Linked DNA regions of Homo sapiens: regions 1, 2 and 4 are each linked to region 3. Evidence: fine-mapped expression QTL. A gene starts in region 3. Each other region holds a variant in brackets. All regions are shown on one strand. Distances are between the middles of the regions. Region 1 overlaps DDX52 (DExD-box helicase 52). Region 2 holds the start of SYNRG (synergin gamma). Region 3 holds the start of DDX52 (DExD-box helicase 52). Region 4 overlaps SYNRG (synergin gamma).

Evidence for each region. PIP is the estimated chance that this variant, and not a neighbour inherited with it, causes the effect.
Region 1: its variant is fine-mapped to the expression of DDX52 in whole blood (TOPMed, PIP above 0.99).
Region 2: its variant is fine-mapped to the expression of DDX52 in lymphoblastoid cells (GEUVADIS, PIP 0.95).
Region 4: its variant is fine-mapped to the expression of DDX52 in whole blood (INTERVAL, PIP 0.90).

The regions. Positions count from the first base shown.
Region 1 is chr17:37,618,295-37,623,447 of GRCh38, reverse strand. It overlaps DDX52 (DExD-box helicase 52), which reads left to right. Exons shown (of 15, transcript NM_007010.5): 10 at 1,928-2,050; 11 at 2,171-2,321; 12 at 2,500-2,575; 13 at 3,609-3,680; 14 at 5,064-5,153. Among named protein-coding and RNA genes, the nearest start is that of MIR378J, 5.8 kb to the right of the region's middle. The variant T/C (reference allele first, on the strand shown) is at 2,208.
Region 2 is chr17:37,606,921-37,612,073 of GRCh38, reverse strand. SYNRG (synergin gamma) reads left to right here and starts at 2,656. Exons shown (of 22, transcript NM_007247.6): 1 at 2,656-2,795. The coding sequence starts at 2,719. It overlaps DDX52 (DExD-box helicase 52), which reads left to right. Exons shown (of 15, transcript NM_007010.5): 15 at 1-2,335. The variant C/GC (reference allele first, on the strand shown) is at 3,088.
Region 3 is chr17:37,640,550-37,645,702 of GRCh38, reverse strand. It overlaps DDX52 (DExD-box helicase 52), which reads left to right and starts at 2,257. Exons shown (of 15, transcript NM_007010.5): 1 at 2,257-2,369; 2 at 3,395-3,593. The coding sequence starts at 2,283. It overlaps LOC105371756 (a long non-coding RNA gene), which reads right to left and starts at 2,765. Exons shown (of 2, transcript NR_188617.1): 1 at 2,167-2,765. RefSeq lists an enhancer at 4,210-4,710.
Region 4 is chr17:37,592,463-37,597,615 of GRCh38, reverse strand. It overlaps SYNRG (synergin gamma), which reads left to right. Exons shown (of 22, transcript NM_007247.6): 3 at 1,272-1,393. Among named protein-coding and RNA genes, the nearest start is that of SYNRG, 14 kb to the left of the region's middle. The variant T/G (reference allele first, on the strand shown) is at 2,741.

The DNA of each region.
Region 1 (5,153 bases), 22 kb after region 3:
TACATAATTTTGTTTTTGTTTTTGAGATGGAGTCTCGCTCTTTCACCCAGGCTGGAGTGCGGTGGCGTCATCTTGGCTCACTGCAAGCTCTGCCTCCTGGGTTCACGCCATTCTCCTACCTCAGTCTCCCGAGTACCTGGGACTACAGGTGCCTGCCACCATGCCCGGCTAATTGTGACTACATAATTTTTAAGGAAAATTAGTTAAACAGTAATATGTAAGGTGAATTGTAATGGGAAAGATGGAAAGTAAGGAAACCAATCAGGCTTTTAAACTGGGGTAGGCAGAGATGAGGAAGAAATAAGGGCAGCAGCCTTAGTGGTGAGACATTAAGTATAGTTGGAGGCTAGAAGGGAAAAGTTTGCAAGTACCTGGTGACTATAGAATGGTTTGCTTTAGTGGTTAAGACCATGGACTCAGGAGCCAGGCTACTTGGGTAGTTCTAGCTCCACCACTATAGCTTTGCACAACTTAACCTCTCTTCCACATTTTCCTTGTCTGTAAAATGGGATAATAATATCTACCTCATAGAGCTGTTTTACTATTAATTCATTAGTACAAGCATAGTACTTATTATATAATAGTGCTTGGCACATAGTAAATGCTAAATGTATTTTATTAATATTCTTAAGAGAATCATTTGGTACTAGGAAATTTAAGGTTTTCCAGGATATTCCTTGGAGATTATACACCAGAGGTTTTCAGCCATGTTTGAGCTTTGGGAGGTCTGCAAACCCTCTAAAATTATACGTAAGATTTTTGTGTGAATGAGTAGTTACTTATTAGAAAGTTTCTTAGCTTTCATTAGATTCCAAAAGAGATGTTTAAGCCATCATAAAAAGGCTAAGAAACTCGGCCAGGCGTGGTGGCTCACCGGTGTAATCCCAGCACTTTGGGAGGCCGAAGCGGGCGGATCATCAGGTCAGCAGTTCGAGACCAGCCTGACCAACATGGTGAAACCCCATCTCTACTAAAAATACAAAAAAGTTAGCCAGGCGTGGTGGTGCACACCTGTAATCCCAGCTACTCAGGAGGCTGAGGCAGGAGAATCGCTTGAACCTGGGAGGCAGAGGTTGCAGTGAGCCAAGATTGCACCACTGTATTCCAGCCTGGGCAACATAGCAAGACTCTGTCTCAAAAAAAAAAGAAAAAAAAAGGCTAAGAAACTCTAATATGAACGGTTAAAAAGATAGCTGGTTTGAGAGAGAGTAAGGGTTTGATAGTGTAAATGTAAAAATAATTTGTTTAGATTCACAGACATCAGATGTAGTAAAAAAAAAATGTTTACTTAGAGATAGTAGTAGAGATTCAACTCAGTAAAATAAAGATTATATTGAAAGAACTGAGAACCAAGGACTAAGCTTGGGGAGAGCACCAGAGTTAGGATAAATAATGAGTTAATGAGGGATGAAGTACCACCTGTGGGGTTCAGTGTACACCATTGGGGTGATGGGTACACTAAAAGCCCAGATTTCCCCAGTATGCAATATATCTGTGTAACACAAATGCACCTGTACCCCTAAATCCATAAGAATAAAAAAATTAATTTCACCCCAAAAAACCCAGTGAATTAAAAAGATAATTATTTCATTTTAAGCAGAATAAAAAAAGGTTTTGAGGCACAGAAGTCAAGAGATGATTATTTCAAAGTTGAGGCATCTGTTACCATAGTGGGGTGTAGGGGGATTGATTAGACAACATTATTGGAATTAGCAAGATGGAGAATATATTTCAAGTTGAGTGGAAATAACCAATTGGAGAGAATGGTGACGAAGATGGAGGCAGAATTAGACCACTAGCCCAAGAAATTTGGCCAAGAAAGTACACTAAATTGAATTGGGTTCTTAAAAGCTACAATCAAATTATGAAATAATGACCAATTGTATTCTTGATTGAGTTATGTATGCCAATTTTTGTCTTCTTTTAGGGTTTCAATCCACCTGTTCTTGTTTTTGTTCAGTCCATTGAAAGGGCTAAAGAACTTTTTCATGAGCTCATATATGAAGGTATTAATGTGGATGTTATTCATGCAGAGAGAACACAACAACAGGTAAAGTCAAATATATACTTTGAAACTCAGAAGAACTACTTGATTTTAAACTATTGACATTAAATTTATGAAGTACCTGTTTTCATTCTAAAACAATTTAATATATATTCTGTTAACCAGAGAGATAACACAGTCCACAGTTTCAGAGCAGGAAAAA[T/C]CTGGGTTCTGATTTGTACAGCCTTGCTAGCAAGAGGGATTGATTTTAAAGGTGTGAACTTGGTGATCAACTATGACTTTCCAACTAGCTCAGTGGAATATATCCACAGGATAGGTGAGTTGTCTTTTTTTTCCTTCCCCTCTGTCACCCACTGATCTGTCTTAGGACCCCTGCTATTCCCTGCACATATGCTCACTTCTTAGTGCTGTGAAAATCCAGTGACTTTTATAAATGAATTTTGAGAGCCTCCTTCCCCCCAAAATGTGTTTTTTAATGGTCTAATTTTTCTTAGGTCGAACTGGAAGAGCAGGGAATAAGGGAAAAGCAATTACATTTTTCACTGAGGATGATAAGCCATTATTAAGAAGGTAAATTAGAAAAAATAACCTAGTGTTATTGGCAAAATTGCTTCATTATTCTTATATGTATATTCAATTAAGAGATAATTACAAAATGGCTATGTCCCAAATTCTACTGATAATGGTGTTAGTTGACCAAATTTTAGCCATGGGAAAGGAAAAATGATCAAAAGGCCTTGTTTTTGCCCTTCCGTTATTAGAATTTGGAAATACATATTCAAAATGGAATGTTCATTGTAAGTTTCAGACTCAGGACTCTTTCAATGGTTGATGTTAGATTTTAATGTAGAAGATGAGTTTCCTGCATTTTGACTGCCTATAGTAATTTTTGGTTGATGATGATTAACACTTCACATTTCTAGCTAATCTAGTTTTGGCCAAAGGAGGTTTGTACTTAGATCTGTTTATCAGTTTTGGTAAATATTTTGGTTGTGCTTTCTGAGCTTTGGCTCTGCCACCTGTCAGCCTTTATATCGCTTTAAGCAGATTCAAATGTGCGTGTGTAGAGGGGTATATTCCAACAACCTAGATCCACCATAGGCCTCAGCAACTCCAAGCATGTGAATCCCATGACCCAAATATTAGTGTAAAACTATGCACCTCAGTTTTCCATCTGTGAAATGAGGACAGTGATAGTATTTACAACACAGGCTTGTTGTGAAGAGTGAAGAAGTTACTATACACAAAAAACTTGGCAACGGTGCCAACCCCATAGTAGGCACTTTCACTTAATGAATTTAAGCTTGACTCTGGCTTCAGTCAGTGCTTCCTCCAAGATTGAGTTTACCAGTTTTGTAGGGCTTGATAAATGTTGAAATAGCTGCTATCTATAGTTATTCATCAGTGCATTAATTTCAGCCCAGTGGATAGTTCTCTCTGTAATCCAATGTGCTTACATCAGGTAATAATTGATAATATATCAGAACACTTTGTGGATTACTTTGTGTAGTTTTAGTTCCCTGTAAGGTTGTGCAGAGGGTTTACATTCATAAACATCAATTTAGCAAAGATACAAGTTTATGTTTATGGGTTTCTTTTTCAGCGTTGCTAATGTTATACAGCAGGCTGGGTGTCCTGTACCAGAATACATAAAAGGTTTTCAGAAACTACTAAGGTACAATCTTGAATTTACCTGTATCTTTGTCTGTCTCTTTGTATATACATTCTTTTTTTTTTTTTTCTTGCTCTGTTGCCCAGACTGCAGTGCAGTGGCATGATCACAGCTCACTGTAGTCTTGATCTCCTAGGCTCAAGTGATCCTCCTGCCTCAGTCCCCTAAGTAGCTGAGACTACAGGCATGTACTACCATGCCTGGCTATAATATTTTTTAGATTTTTGGGGAGTAGAAATGGGGTCTTGCTGTGTTAACCAGGCTAGTCTTGAACTCCTGGCCTCAAGTGATCTTGCTATCTTATATCCTTGCCTCCCGAAGTACTAGGATTACAGGCTTGTGTCACTGTGCCCAGTCCAAAACTGCTTGTGAATATTACATGTTATTTCCTTGCCAGTTTTTTATCCTTTATTTATTTATTTTTTTCCTTGAGATGAAGTCTCAGCTCATTGCAACCTCTGCCTCCCAGGTTTAAGCAGTTCTCCTGCTTCAGCCTCTCAAGTGGCTGGAATTACAGGTGTGCGCCACCATGCCCAGCTAATCTTTGTATTTTTAGTAGAGATGGGGTTTCACCATGTTGGCCAGGCTGGTCTCAAACTCCTGACCTCAAGTGATCTGCCCACCTGGGCCTCCCAAAGTGCTGGGATTATAGGCATGAGCTACTGCACCTAGGCTTATCCTTGAAATGTGAAGTATTCAGATTCTTTTAAAAGTATTCAGTATAAGTAAAATATGCTGAGAATTATTTTAGTTCATAAAGCTGGTAAAAAACTTAATTGATCAAAATCAAACTCTGATGCTTGTTGACACAGGATATAAGGTTGGCACAGGACATATTTTAATCACAGTCAGTAGCTTTCTAAAAGGTTGATTGAATTTATCATCCCTTTGAGTTAGCTCTGTAAATCCTATTAGGCGATCTCGTTTATTAAAGTAGTTACAGCCCCACCTTAAACCAGTAAATGGTTTTGAAAAATGAATTTTGTGGCTGAGCGTGGTAGCTCACGCCTGTAATCCCAGCACTTTGGGAGGCCGAGGCGGGCGGGACCTGAGGTCGGGAGTTTGAGACCAGCCTGACCAACATGGAGAAACCCCATCTCTACTTAAAATACAAAAAAAAATTTAGCCGGGCGTGGTGGTGTATGTCTGTAATCACAGCTACTTGGGAAGCTGAGGCAGGAGAATCGCCTGAACCCAGGAGGCAGAGGTTGCAGTGAGCCGAGATTGTGCCATTGCACTCCAGCCTGGGCAACAAGAGCAAAACTCCGTCTCAAAGGAAAAAAAAAAAATGAATTTTGTGATCAAGGATCAAAACTAATTTTAGCTTTAACTCTTCTAATTGAAGTTGCACTTAATTCTTTTCCTTTTTTACTTTGTAACTTTCAGCAAACAAAAGAAAAAGATGATTAAGAAACCATTGGAAAGGGAGAGCATTAGTACAACTCCAAAATGTTTCTTAGAAAAAGCTAAGGATAA
Region 2 (5,153 bases), 34 kb after region 3:
TTATATATATTATGTATTATATATATTAGATATATATTTTTTCTTCAATAAATTAACCTTAGCTTACTGTAACTTTTACTTTATGAGTTTTTTTGTTTTGTTTTTTTTTTTTTTTTTGAGAAACAGGGTCTGTTACCTAATTTGGAGTTTAGTGGCACAATCATGGCCCACTGCAGCCTTGACCTCTTAGACTCAAGTGATCCTCAAACCTCAGCCTCCCGAGTAGCTGGTACTATAGGTGCGGGCCACCAACACTCAGCTAATTTTTAAATTTTGTAGAGACGAGGTCTTGCTTGTTGTCCAGTTGGGTTTTTTAGATTTTTTTTTTTTTTTTTTTTTGGAGATGGAGTCTTGCTCTGTTGCCCAGGCTGGAGTGCAGTGGCATGATCTCGGCTCACTGCAACCTCTGACTCCTGGGTTCAAGTGATTCTCCTGCCTCAGCCTCCCGAGTTGCTGGGACTACAGGCATGCGCCACCACACCCAGCTAATTTTTGTATTTTTAGTGACAGGGTTTCACCATGTTGGCCAGGCTGGTCTCAAACTCCTGACCTGGAGTGAGCCACTATATCCGGCCTTTATAAACTTTTTTGATTCTTGTCATAACACTTAGCCTAAAATGCAAATGTACAGCTGTAGAAAAATACTTTATTTCTTTATATCCTTATTCTAGAAGCTTTTTTTCTATTAATTTTTGTTTGTTTGTTTTGTTTTACTATTTACTTCTAAAACTTTTTTGTTAAAAACCATGGCACAAACACACACATTATGCTAGGCATACAAAAGGTCAGGATCATCAGTCTCACTGTCTTCCACCCCCACTTCTCATCCCACCATTGTATCTGCTGTCTGTGGCTGACCAAAACATCATCATGTAGCACATGACTAGTGTGGCAAGTGCTCTGTTAGATGTAAGGCCATGATGCTAAAGCATCACAAGAGGGCATCTAACCCAGATTGGGGATGTCATGGAAGGCCGACATCCTGAGTTGAATCCTGCAAATGTAAAAACCAATAGGCAAAGAAGAGGAACAAAAAGGATTCCAGGACAAACTGAGGTCACATCTATGATCCTTGACTTTATTGTGTCTGTTTAAAGTATCTACAGTAACCTGTATCAACTTAGTCAGTGTATTAATACTAAATTTAGCTCCTTCAAAGCAGTTGGAACTATGTGCTACATAAATTTCAGCTTCACACAAGGAAGGGAAGGAGTGAAATTAGTGAACAGGCAGTTACAGCAAAAGAAAAAACATAAAAATTGAATAGCTGGCTCTGGTGAAATGAGCAAGGACTTTAGAGTCAAACTGGCCTGGATTTGAATCCTGATCCTCATTGCTTGTAGCTGTATGATCTGGACAAATGACAGTAACTGTTTCTAACCTTGATTTTCTCATCTGTAAGATGCCAATTGTAACTCCTAAGGATACTGAGGATTTTTTAAAATGCGTGTACAGTTCCTGACCAGTGGTTTGTGCCTAATAACTTATTACAAATTATTACCCAGTAAAAACCTTGAGACAAGAGTGAAAACGTAAAGCTAATTAATCCATTACTTGTTAGCAAGCAAACTACGTGCTTGAGAAAATTACTCAACTTTCATGTTTTACTTCCAGACAGTAGTTTGATTAAAAGAAAAAAAAAAATCACAGCCCAGGCATGTGGCTCACACCCTGGCACTTGGAGGCCGAGGTGGGAGCATAGCTTGAGCCTAGCAGTTTGAAACTAGCCTGGGCAACATAGATCCTATCTCTACAAAAAAAAAAAAAAAAAAAAAAAAAAAAATTGGCCCGGTGTGGTGGTGCATGCCTGTGGTCCCAGCTACTCAGGAGGCTGAGGCGAGAGGATCGCTTGAGCCAGGGAGGCTGAGGCTGCTGTGAGCCATGATCATGCCACTGCACTCCAGCCTGGACAACAGAGCAAGACCCTGTCTCAAAAAAAAAAAAAATCAGTAAAAAATATGCCGAAATAGCTTCAGAGTAATTATGAATTGCCTTCCAAAAACCACTGTTTTGCACTTGCCTGCAAGAATAGGAAAAACAAAAGGACTGTAAGGTGGCAGGATGGCAGAACCAAACAAGAGTAGTACACCTTGGAGTTTTTTCGAAATATGGGTTGGGTTTTTGGGCTCTTGGTTGATTTAAAATAAAATTTAAATGCCTTCAGCGTCTGTGATAGGTGCCAACATGAAGCTACCGAGTTCCAGAGAAAGAGGGGAGAGCTGATCACTCATCAGTGCTGCGAGACTATCAAAGGGCCCTTCAGGACCTATCTGTTCTTTGTGTGTAAAGAGTAACAATAAAAGAACACCAGTGTACCCACCGTATAGTTTAAAAATCAGGACTCAGCCTACTCTTTCCACTAACCGCGATCATGGTTTTCAAACGGAGGACCAACGGCGCTTTGCCACTGGGCCGCCAGCTGGGCCCTGCAGAGGGCCTACCAGACAATGAATCAGCTCCCTTGGAGAGGCGCCCGCGACCGCCCCACCAGCCCGAGAGCTAGAATTGAATCTGGGGGACCCCTGCGGCGCCGGGTCACGTGCCGTGGGCGCGCCACGCCTCCCCGAGGGCCGGGGGAGTCACGTGGGCGCGAGGCCCCGCCCCATCGCCCGGTCCGCGGCGAGGTGGGGCCTGGTGTTTGACCCGGAAGTGGCTGTGTTCAGCTGACAGCTGCTGATAAGGTGGCGGCGGCGAAGGCAGCGGCAGGTCGGGAGCAAGATGGCGCTGCGGCCAGGAGCTGGTTCTGGTGGCGGCGGGGCCGCGGGAGCTGGCGCGGGGTCCGCCGGGGGAGGCGGGTAGGTGTGAAGAGCCGGGCGGGAGCCCGCTGGCCTCCGCGGGGGCGGCGAGGGGCGCTTGGCAGTTATGGCAGTTTTCTCCAGCCCTGATCCTTTTCCTTGGAACTGGGCTGCGGGAGGAGGGTCATCCCCCAGGGACCCAGGCCGAAAGGGGCGTGTGGAGCCCAGGTGCTGGACGCTGGTGTTCCGGGATCAGTTGGGGGCGCCGGCCGCCTGGAATCGAGCGGGGAGCGAGCGCGCGCCCAGTGTGGGAGGGGAGAGAAGATGAGGGTCCTCTTGGGGTGGGGGGGGG[C/GC]GGGGCAAATCAGGAACCGCGACTCCGCTCCTAGTCCTAGCTGCCTCTGAAGCGACCAGGGTCTTCCCTTTCCTTGGGCTTTCTAGACTTAACCGGATATGTTGGAGGGAGGGCTTTAAAAATCTGTTCACAAAGCTGGAGGACTGTTTCCAAGGGGGGTGTGTGTGTGGACTATTTGTCTCTTCCCCTTTTAGAGTGTCCTGTCCTCTTTATTTCCTTAACCCGCGACAAACAGCAGGAACATCTAAAGACCTCTGAATTAGTAATGGTCTTGAGATAGAGTTCTTGTCTTGTACACTAACTCTTAAGACTTGTCTGTCTTCTTTTTAAAAAGGCATTTAAAAACAAAGAAAGTGCACTGTTAAACAGCAGTTGCGCATTTATTAGAACAAAGCTTCCAGACTCAGCCCTTAAACAAATCTGCCCTCTGCCACATTTCAGCCAAGAACTGCCGTGGTTCTTATACCCAGAATGGTAAGGGAGATGTACGTTTTACAAGCTGACAGATTCGTTATCATTTAAGGAAATATTTTATTCTAGGAAGTTTTCACTCCACTTCTATAATGACCTAGTCTGATTTTGTTTTACTAACCAACACACAACAGCACACACATTTGGAGGTAAAAGTAGCTTTGCATCTTCAGTATCCTAAATTGTCTTTGGAAAACGAAGTGTTAGGTTTTTTTTTTATATGCAGTGTTTCAATTTCGGAGTCGTGAACACTACAAAAGTGTAAGGACCTTAAAGTTATCACCTCTTGCAGGTGCTTGTCAGGAAACGAGCAGTGGCTGTTCAATAAACCACCTGTGTGTAACCCCATTTTTCATTTCCTCTGCACATCTTTAACTTTAGATTTTTAAACTTTTTGCTTTCTCTTTTGTTCTCTCCGTTGTTTCATTAGAGGGTTTTTTAAAAAATAAATACTTCGTGTAAGCCAGTTTCTGGCTGGAGAAGAAACATATGTAATAATTCCCTTCTATTTGTTTTTTCTTTTTCTTTTGTCTTGTTTTTTTTTTTTTTTTTTTTTTTTTGAGAGGAAGTCTTGCTCTGTTGCCCAGGCCAGAGTGCGGCGGCGTGATCTCGACCCGCTGCAACCTCTGCCTCCTGGGTCCAAGCGATTCTCTTGCCTCAGCCTCGGAGCAGCTGGGATTACAGGTGCGCGCCACCATGCCCGGCTAATTTTGTTGATTGATCGATTGAGACAGAGTCTCGTTCTGTCACCCAGGCTAGAGTGCAGTGGCACGATGTCGGCTCACTGCAACCTCGACCTCCCGGGTTCAAGCGATTCTTCTGCCTCAGCCTCCCAAGTAGCTGGGATTACAGGCGTGCGCCACCACGCCCAGCTAATTTCTGTATTTTTAGTAGAGACGGGGTTTCACCATGTTAGCCAGGCTGGTCTCAAACTCCTGGCCTCAAGTGATCCGCCCACCTTGGCCTCCCAAAGTTCTAGAATTACAGGCTTGAGTCACCACGCCCGGCATCCTCTATTTATTTCCTATATGTGATTACAGTTTCTAAAATGTCCCTGGATGGTATTAATTTGATCAAGTATATGATTAATCATGGCACCAAGTTCTGGGAAAATGTAAACTTAGAAGAATTGATATCTAGGCCCAAATTTTTATTTACTTAAAAAATGTTTTTGGATGGGGAGGACCTCAGGTTCAGAAATTCAAGTGCATTATTCCCTTTAGTTTGCAGTATTTGAGTATCATTGGTCCATGGACACAAATTTTTAAAATAAATATGGGTTGAATTTTGATAGAAATTAGAATGATTTTAAAATTTCCCCCCTTTGTAAATGTAGCAACATCTGCATTCTAAAACTGTAAACGATATACAGGAGAGAAAGAAGTGGTTAAAATGATTCTTACCTTGAAAAATGTATGGTACATATGTTACATATATTGGCAACTTTCTGAGGCTGAGAAGCTGTATCCTCAATAGAAAAAGGAATATTATTTTTTTTAGAGAGTAATGGTGTAAAGGCTGAAGTTATTTTATTTCCTTTTTAATTTTCTTTTTGCCACCCACCCTCCCTGAAATTATTTTATAAGGAAACTTAA
Region 3 (5,153 bases):
TACATAGGGATTAGGTTCTAAATCAGCTCATAAAGAAAAAAAAAATCTCATAAAGTTGAATTTTTTTTTAAATTCCCTAAGTCATCCACAAAGTATGGTAGTTGCCATTTCATACATATTAATTTTATATATGGCTATGGCCATATTTATGTGCCAAACTGAAGATCAACACACTAATATTGAGTTTTTCCTCTTATGTTGAAATAGATTAATTTTATTTATTTTTGAGACAAGGTCTCACTCTGTCACCCAGGTTGGAGTGCAGTGGTGCCGTTACAAGTCACTGCAGCTTCAACCTCCCAAGCTCAAGCAATCTTCCTGCCTCAGCCTCCCAAGTGGCTGGGACTATAGGTGTGTGCCACTACACCCAGCTAATGTTTTAATTTTTTGTAGAGATGGAGTTCCGCCATGTTGCCCCGGCTGGTTTCAAACTTCTGAGCTGAAGTAATCTGCCCACCTTGGCCTCCCAAAGTGCTAGGATTACAGGTATAAGCCACTGCGCCTGGCTGAAGATAAATTATTTTTATTGAACAACAGATGAAGTACTTGGGAAGTTCCTATTTTTAAAGAGTAGACACACTTGGGACAGGAAGACCACCCCCCGACCCACTGTAATAGGGAGTAAGGGGCTGAATTCATCTGAGAAACCGCAGATTCACCTCCCCCATCACATGCTCACCTCACACCTGCTTTCCTTGATTGTAAAGGACTCACCCATACAATTTCAAGTATGTTTCATTCTCTTTGGTCAAATACATATAACTGAATTTTTATAAGTTAAATGCTTATATGGTACAACTCCTTTGTATCATTTATATGTTGATGACTTCCAAATTAATTTCTCTAGCCCTAATTTTTGTTCCTGAGCTTCAGATTCAGAACCAACTACCTACTTGGATGTCTCCACTTAAAGTCAACTAGGTAGGCATCTTAACACGTCCAAAACATAACAATTGATTCCATCCTCCGTATCTCACTTGTACCAGAAAGCCCTTCTTCTCTCAGGCTTTCTTAGCTCAGTAAATGGCATGCCATCTACTCAGCCAAAAAACTAGGAGTGATCTTTGATTCCTCCCTTTCTCTCACCTCTGCATAAAATCCGTCAGGTACGTTTAGCTCTACCTCCAAAATACATGCCAGATCTAATCCATTTATCTCTCTCAGCACAGATACCAACCTAGACAAGCCATGATCATCATTCTACTTTGACTAACCTGTTTCCACTCTTAGCTTTTCTATGGTCCATTCTCCAAATAGCCAGTGTAATCCTTTATGAAACATCCACGCATTCATTCACCAAAGTGCACAGAAACTGGGGATACATAACGAAGCAAAGTATATCCCTGTGCTCAGGGACTTACATTCCAGAAGAGGGAGAGGCAATAAGCAGTAAATAATTTCGTACAGATGTAATAAATATAAAAAATTAAATGTGATAAACTAAATCATGTTCTTCTCTCCATAAAAATTTTCAAATAGTTTCCCAAGGTGGAAGTCCAAATTCCTTACTATGACCTTGTTACAAGATTCTGTGAGATCTGGCTTCTGTTTGTCCCTCCAACCTTATCTGTACTACTCTATCAGACTGCAACTTGGCTCTAGTCGCACCGGCATTCTTTCTATTCCCTCAAGGTTCCAATTTTTTTCCCTTCAGCCACGTGTTTCCCCTATCTGGAATGCTGTTCCCAGATCTTGGACAGGTTGCTTCCTCTTAGCTCAAGTTTTCACTTCAACAGAGTGAATTTCACTAAGTCAGCTCCCTCATCATTTTCTCTATCAATTACACCTTTTTGTTTTATAGCACTTATTACTTTACAGAGATTTTGCTTATTTATTTGTTAACAATATCTGTTGTCCCTACTAAAATGTAAGCTTCGTAAGAAGAGGAATCTTAAGATGTTGTTTACTATAGTATCCCTCAAAGTCTAGAACAGTGCCCAACATAAGAGGATACTGATAAATATTTTTTAAAAGAATTTACACACGCCTGTAGTCCCAGCAGTTTGGGAGACCGAGATGGGAGGATCACTTGAGCCCAGGAGTTCGAGGCTGCGATTGCGCCACTGCGCTCCAGCCTGGGCGACAGAGAGAGACCTTGTTTCAAAAAAAAAAAAAAAAGATAAATAATGACGGAGTACACGATAATAAAATAGCCTCGTTTCTCACCCAGCCAGGCTCCGCCTACAGGAGCCAATTATGCTCACGCCCTCTTCCGACGCTGCCCGGGGCCTGGGAAGTAGTCTGCGCAGGCGCCGTAGAACTGTGGCGCTTTCTGGGTAAAGATGGACGTCCACGATCTCTTTCGCCGGCTCGGCGCGGGGGCCAAATTCGACACGAGACGCTTCTCGGCAGACGCAGCTCGATTCCAGGTACTGTGCCCAAGGGACCGAGGGCCGAGTAACTGAGAAGGAGCAGGAGCCCGGGAATGAACCCGCTGCTGGGGGAGGCCGGCGCACTTGGACACCCGTGGCCTGGCTCTCGCCACCCTTGGGGTATTTTGCTTCCTTTTGTGTTCGGCTTGCCTGCACGGCTGCTCGGTTCAAGCCTTTTGAATAAGCTCTTTAACTATCCTGTTGTAGACCTAGTTGGGCCTGGCACGGAAACCCTCTTTCCTCCCTCTTATTCAAAGCAAAGTTGGAATCCTCCTTTCAAAAGGAACTTTTTCTCCGAACCTAGAGGAAAGGAATTTCGAAAACAGAAACAACCAAAGATGGAGAAAACAGATTCTCTTACTATAGTCTCCCCAAGTTTGGCTTGGCATGCGTATAGTTGTACTGGGCGTGATTCTTTTTATTGCTTCAACCCCATGGCTTAAGTAACCAATGAGAAGAGCGATTAAGAAATGGGGGCTCTTACCTAGAGAAGTAGTGAGTGATACATCGGGGGAGGTCAATTGGGGCCCAATTCTGGAAAATCTTGAATGTCTACTTTGTTGTTTGGATGTGTATATGCGTGTGACATGTGTTTCTTCTTTCTCTAACTGGTGAGTATGAACTCTGGAGCCAGATTATCTGGGTCTAAATGCTAAGTCTGCCAGTTACTCATTTTTAGACCTACCTCAAGTTACTTAATTTCCGAATGCCTTGGTTTTCTCATTCGTAATACTGCTATTTACCTTATAGAGTTGTAAATGTGAAGCAATTTAATATGTATAAACATGCTTAGAAATCTGCTTGACATTTAGTAAGCATATATGTGTTCATTGCTAATATTAATTTGTTACTATTATGAGGTCAGAGAAGGTCTCTTCAGATTCCATTTGTCCAGACACCTGTTAGCTCGACAGATACTTGGTGAAAGGGTAGAAAAGATGAGGAGTCATTGAACAGTCTTGCTTGAATGAAAGCAATGGTATTCTGTCAGTAGGTTTCATTTTACATTTTTTGGGTTTTAGATAGGAAAAAGGAAATATGACTTTGATTCTTCGGAGGTGCTTCAGGGACTGGACTTTTTTGGAAACAAGAAGTCTGTCCCAGGTGTGTGTGGAGCATCACAAACACATCAGAAGCCCCAAAATGGAGAGAAAAAAGAAGAGAGCCTAACTGAAAGGAAGAGGGAGCAGAGCAAGAAAAAAAGGAAGACGATGACTTCAGGTTAGTGTTTGATTTCTGTCATGTTTTTTCTCTTTAATTTTTTTCAGTTATAAAAATAATACAGGCTTATGGCTACAAGTCAGACAATAAGGTCATTTGTCAGCTGATGGCACTCAGGTTGTTTCCAGGTATTTGTCATTAGAAATATTGTTACAGCAAAGGTAATTTTAAGTAAAGATATTTATACATAAATCCTTTTGTACAGGTACTGTTATTTCTGCAGAATACCATCCGAAAAGTAGCATCATATGGTGAAAGGGTATGTACCCTTTCTCTGAAAAATACTACAAAGTGACTTCCCAAGTCCTTGTCAGTGCTGAATATTATTGGTGTTAATTTTTTTGCCAAGCTAATGAATGAAACTTTTTTTTTTTGAGACAGAGTCTCACTCTGTCTCCAGGCTGGAGTGCAGTGGCGCGATCTCGGCTCACTGCAACCTCTGCCTCCTGGGTTCAAGCAATTCTCCTGCCTCAGCCTCCTGAGTAGCTGGGACTACAGGTGCGTGTCACCACGCCTAGCTAATTTTTGTATTTTTAGTAGAGATGGGGTTTCACCATGTTGGCCACGATGGCCTGGATCACTTGACCTCGTGATCCGCCCGCTTTGGCCCCCCAAAGTGCCGGGATTACAGGCCTGAACCACCGCGCCCTGCCTGAAACAATTTTATATTTTACTGATAACTGGTGAGGTCGAGCATTTTTTTTTTTTTGAGATGAGTCTCGCTTTGTTGCCCAGTCTGTGGTGCAGTGGTGCAATCTCGGCTCACTGCAAGCTCCGCCTCCTGGGTTCACGTCATTCTCCTGCCTCAGCCTCCCAAGTACCTGGGACTACAGGTGCCTGCCACCACACCTGGCTAATTTTTTGTATTTTTAGTAGAGACCAGGTTTCATCGTGTTAGCCAGGATGGTCTCGATCTCCTGACCTTGTGATCCACCCTCCTCCGCCTCCGCCTCCGCCTCCTAAAGTGCTGGGATTACAGGCGTGAGCCACCACACCTGGCTGGTCAAGCATATTTTTGTATGCTTTACTGGACATTAATATTTCACCTTTTGTGAATTGTTTCTTCTTACTCTTTGCCCATTTTGACAGAGGTTTTTGTTTTTTTGTTGTTTGTTTGTTTGCTTTTGAGACAGAGTCTCGCTCTGTTGCCCAGGCTGGAGTGCAATGGCATGTTTTCCGCTCACTGCAACCTCTGCCTCCCAGGTTCAAGTGATTCTTCTGCCTCAGGCTCCTGAGTAGCTGGGACAGGTGTGCCCCACCACGCCTGGCTAATTTTTGTATTTTTTAGTAGAGACGGGGTTTCTCCATGTTGGTCATGCTGGTCTTGAACTCCTGACCTCGTGATCTGCCCGCCTCGACCTCCCAAAGTGCTGGGATTAAAGGTGTGAGCCACCGCGCCTGGCCTTTTTTTTTTTTTTTTTTCTTGTACTGTACTCTAGGGCTGTTTATATTTTTTTAATCTATAATATTAAGTTTCCTAGTCATTTACCTTTTTTTGGTAAACACTTGAGTTATACAATGATGAAAAGTAAAGTTCCTTCCTACTGTTTCTCTCCAGTC
Region 4 (5,153 bases), 48 kb after region 3:
TGTGGTAACTGTTATATTACCTATTCATGTAAGAAAAAGGAAGAAGAATAACATTTCTTTGAGCATAGTAAGTATTAAACAGTTTTACAAATGATAAACCAAGGCATAGAAAGAAGCAGATTGCCCAAGGTTCCAAAATAGTATGTGTCATTTCTAGTTGGCTCCCAGAGTTCATGCTCCTAACTGTTATTTTGTTAGTTATCTGCTGTTGTGTAACAAATTATCCCAAACTTTAAAAAGTAAACATTTTATTATTTCATAGTGTGTCTCTCGGTCAGGAATCTAGGAGTAGCTCTGCTGGGTGGTTCAGGCTCAAGACCTCTTATGAGATTGCAGTGAAGATGTCAGCCAGGCTTGCAGTCATCTGAAAGTTTCATGGAGATGCTGCCGAGGTGGCTCGCTGAGATAGATGGCAAATTCATGCTGCCTTTTGGCAGAAGACCTCAGTACCTTACCACATGGATTCTCCATAGGTCTTATTGAGTATTTCATGACGTGGCAGTGGCTTGCTCCAGAGCAAGTGATCCAAAAGAACCAGGAGGAAACTACAGTGTCTTTTAAGAACTAGCCTTCAGGCCAGGCACAGTGGCTCACACCTGTAATCCCAGCACTTTGGGAGGCTGAGGCGGGTGTTGAGGTCAGGAGTTCAAGACCACCCTGGCCAAGATGGCGAAACCCCATCTCTACTAAAAAATACAAAAATTAGCTGGGCGTGGTGGCAGGCACCTGTAGTCCCAGCTACTTGGGAGGCTTGAACCCAGGAGGTGGAAGTTGCAGTGAGCTGAGATCATGCCACTGCACTCCAGCCTGGGTGACAGAGTGAGACTCTGTCTCAAAAGAAAAAAAAAATAACTAGCCTTCGAAGTTACATGCTGTCATTTCCACAGTATCCTGTTGGTTATACTGATCAGCCCCATTCAGTATGGAATGGAACAACACACGGGTATGAATACCAGGAGACAGAGGTCATTGGAGGCCATCTTGAAGGCTGAGTACCCCAATTAGGCCATACTGTTTTTTAATATGCATACAAATTCCATAGAAGAGATATTATCTTCATTTTACAGATGAAGTTTTGTAACTTGTTCAAGATCACACAGCTAAGTAAATGATGGAGTTGGAATTCATATTCACATCTGTCTCACTCAGGACCCTGTGCTTTTTCCATTACACTCTGCTTCCTGCCAAGTAACAAGTCCTTTAGGTACTTATGGTTTTAAGAAAATAAACTTTAAAACACATTGACTTTAATAATGTCTTTATATTTTCAGCAGGCCTGATGCCGATGCAGCAACAAGGATTTCCTATGGTCTCTGTCATGCAGCCTAATATGCAAGGCATTATGGGAATGAATTACAGCTCTCAGATGTCCCAAGGACCTATTGCTATGCAGGTACTTGCTTCTTTAGTTGGTTTCTTACAAAGTTATTGTTTGTTGTTACGTTTATATATCAAGAGCTACAGGCTAAGAGCTTAATGTTACAATTAGAAATAAGCATAAATAAATGGCTTCCTTCAAACTAAAATGAAGATGTGTTCACCCTCCAAGAGTGAGGGAAAAGGCTAGGTGCAGTGGCTCATGCCTGTAATCCCAGCACTTTGGGAGGCCAAGGCGGGCAGATCACTTGAGGTCAGGAGTTCGAGACCAGCCTGGCCAACATGGTGAATCCCTGTTTCTACTAAAAATACAAAAATTACCTGGGCGTGGTGGCATGTGCCTGTAGTCCCAGCTACTCGGGAGGCTGAGGCAGGACAATCCCTTAAACCCGAGAGGTGGAGGTTGCAGTGAGCCAAGATCATGCCACTGTACTCCAGCCTGGGCAACAAAGTGAGACTCCCGTCTCAAAAAAAAAAAAAAAGGCCAGAGGAAAAAAAGGTTTTTGCTTTTGTACTATTAACAGCTATCTTGAAGGCCATATACTGTATTTCTTTTTTACCTAATACTTTACTTATTTTTGCTTTTTTCAACTTATATTTTAGATTCAGGGGGCACGTTTGTAGGTTTGTTACACTAATATGTTGTGTGATGCTGAGGGTTGGGGTATGATGGAACCCATCACCCAGGTAGTGAGCATAGTACCAACAGGTAGTTTTTCAACCCTTCCCCCACTTTCTCCCGTCTTGTAGTCTCCAATGTCTGTCGAGCCTGTCTTTATGTCCATGTGCACCCAGTGTTTAGCTCCCACTTGTGAGAACATGCAGTATTTGGTTTTTTGTTTCTGCGTTAGTTTACTTATTTACCTAATACTTTAACATTTTCTATTTCTGTGTGTTTTGTTATACAGTATATACTTTTATACAGTAACACATGTATATAACTTATAAATAAGTGATATTAGGACTTCATGACCAGAATTTTAAGTTGAAACCATTGTTGTTTTGAAGTCGATTATGCAAATAAAGCTTCTGTTTTGTGTTTAAAGGGTCAGGAAAACTTCCAGTGTCATTTTTTATCTGTCTCTAGAAGGAAGGGAATACATTGAAATTGTGTAGGTTTTTAATTCATGTTAAGCTAGCTTTCACTAGGGTGTGCTGCAGAAACAGTCCCCAGATCTCAGTGACTTAGAAAAGTTTATTCCTCACTCGTGATACATATCCTTATGGGTTAGTGCTGACTCTGCTCCATGTTTTCTTTATCCTAAGACCCTCAGCCAGGACATCCTAGGCTCTTGGCATAGGAAAAAGAGATGGCCAAACCCTGTGATGTCTTTTAAAGCTAACACTTGGAGGTAGCATTTAT[T/G]AGTCACTTCTGCTCACCAAAGTAATGTGGCCTTAACATCAATAGGGGAGGAATATACCAGGACGAATGTAAACCACATAGGGATGTGTAGTTCTCTTAGAATAAAGGTAGCAAATGGCTGGGAGCAGTGGCTCACACCTGTAATCCCAGCACTTTGGGAGGCTGAGGTGGGCAGATCATGAGTTCAGGAGATCGAGACCAGCCTGACCAACATGGTGAAACCTCGTCTCTACTAAAAATACAAAAATTAGCCGGGCGTGGTGGTGCATGCCTGTAATCCCAGCTACTCAGGAGGCTGAGCAGGAGAATCGCTTGAACCCAGGAGGCAGAGGTTGCAGTGAGCTGAGATTGCGCCACTGCACTCCCGCCTGGGCGACAGAGTGAGATTCCATCTCAAAAAAAAAAAAAAAAAAGAAGAAGAAAGGCAGCAAATAACTAAAAACAATCTACCATAGAATACAATGTATTTTAAATTAAGACTTCCTAAGCTTAATACTGAATCTTAATAACAATTGATACAAATTTTAAATCATTAATTTTTATTTTAATATTAAATATTAATTAAAATAATTAATATTGTAATTAATATAATTAAAATTAATATTATTGTAATTAATATAATTAAAATAATTAATATTGTAATTAATATAATTAAAATAATTAATATTGTAATTAATATAATTAAAATAATTAATATTGTAATTAATATAATTAAAATAATATTCATAAACATTATTTTATGACTTACACAATTATCTGAAAAATGTTTTTAGAGTTTGAAACAACCAAAAACAGTAAGAGTCTCTAATATGCAGAACAATAAGAAAAAAGTAAACTATGAGAGTTGTTAGTACCTTAATAATGTCCCTGAATATCAGAAGCTTGTGTATTAATGATTCTAAGACAAAGCAGCCAAAGTCTTTTTCTTTAACCTTTAATCTTGCTGACAGGCATTATACTGTTTGGAAGCTGCTCACCATTTTTTTTTTTTTTTTTTGAGAGGGAGTTTTGTTGCCCAGGCTGGAGTGCAATGGCACGATCTCGGCTCACTGCAACCTCCGCCTCCCAGGTTCAAGCGATTCTCCTGCCTCAGCCTCCCAAGTAGCTGGTATTACAGGCATGTGCCACCACGCCCGGCTAATTTTGTATTTTTAGTAGAGATGGGGTTTCGCCATGTTGACCAGGCTGGTTTCAAACCCCTGACCTCAGGTGATCTGCCTGCCTCGGCCTCCCGAAGTGCTGGGATTATAGGCATGAGCCACCACACCTGTCCGCCACTCACCATTTTTTAAGGAGAAAAACATCCAGATTTTATTTCCCCCCACCCCGAAACTCAATAGCCCTAACCAATCAGGGACATACATGAAGCAAACCCATTGTTCCTTTAGTTATCTCTTAAGTCTTTGGAGATAAAAGTGATGATTCAGATAAAAGTCAACATAAAAAAATTTAGTCTTTTTTTTGAGACAGAGTCTGGCTCTGTTGCCCAGGCTGGAGTGCAGTGGTACAATCTCGGCTCACTGCAACTTCTGTCTCCTGGGTTCAAGCGATTCTCCTGCCTCAGCTTCCCAAGCAGCTGGGATTACAGGTGCATGCCACCACATCTGGCTCATTTTTGTATTTTTAGTAGAGACAGCATTTCATAGTGTTGGCCAGGCTGGTCTTGAACTCTTGACCTCAAGTGATCCACCCGCTTTGGCCTCTCAAAGGGCTGGGATTACAGGTGTGAGCCATCGCGCCGGCCAGAAATTTAGTCTTGATTATTATTATATTATTATTGATTATTATAATCTCTCCCTTCCCCAAAACACATAAAAAGAAAACACTCCTCATGATGTACAATACATTTTAAAATTATTATTCTGAAGCATTTCAAACATCTAGGCAAGTTTAGAGCACATGATGGACATGTGTAAACCTGTTGCAAACTGTTGTGTTATTGTAAGAAATAATAGAAATCCTTTGCCCAGTTCCCCTATTGGTAAAACTTGTAGAAATATAGTAACACAACCAGCATATGGACATTGGCACAGCTGAGATACAGAACATTTCCATCTCCCCAAGGATCTCCTCACATTGTCCTTTTGTAGCTGTATTCACTTCCTTCCTGCCCCACCTTACTCCTTTTGCATTCACTAGTGTGTTCCCCATTTCTATAATTTTGTGTTTTCAAAAATGTTATATAAATTGAATCATTAACCTTTTGGGTTTGGCGTTTGTCGCTTAGAATAATCCCTTCAGATTCATCCAAATTGTTGCATGTATCAGTAGTTCATTTTTTTTATAATCGATGAGTAATAGTCCATGGTGTGGATGTATGACAGTTTGTTTAACCTTTTGCTCACTGAAGGACATCAGAGTTGTTTACAATTTTTGGCTATTACAAATAAAGGTTTTTGCGTGAACATATGTC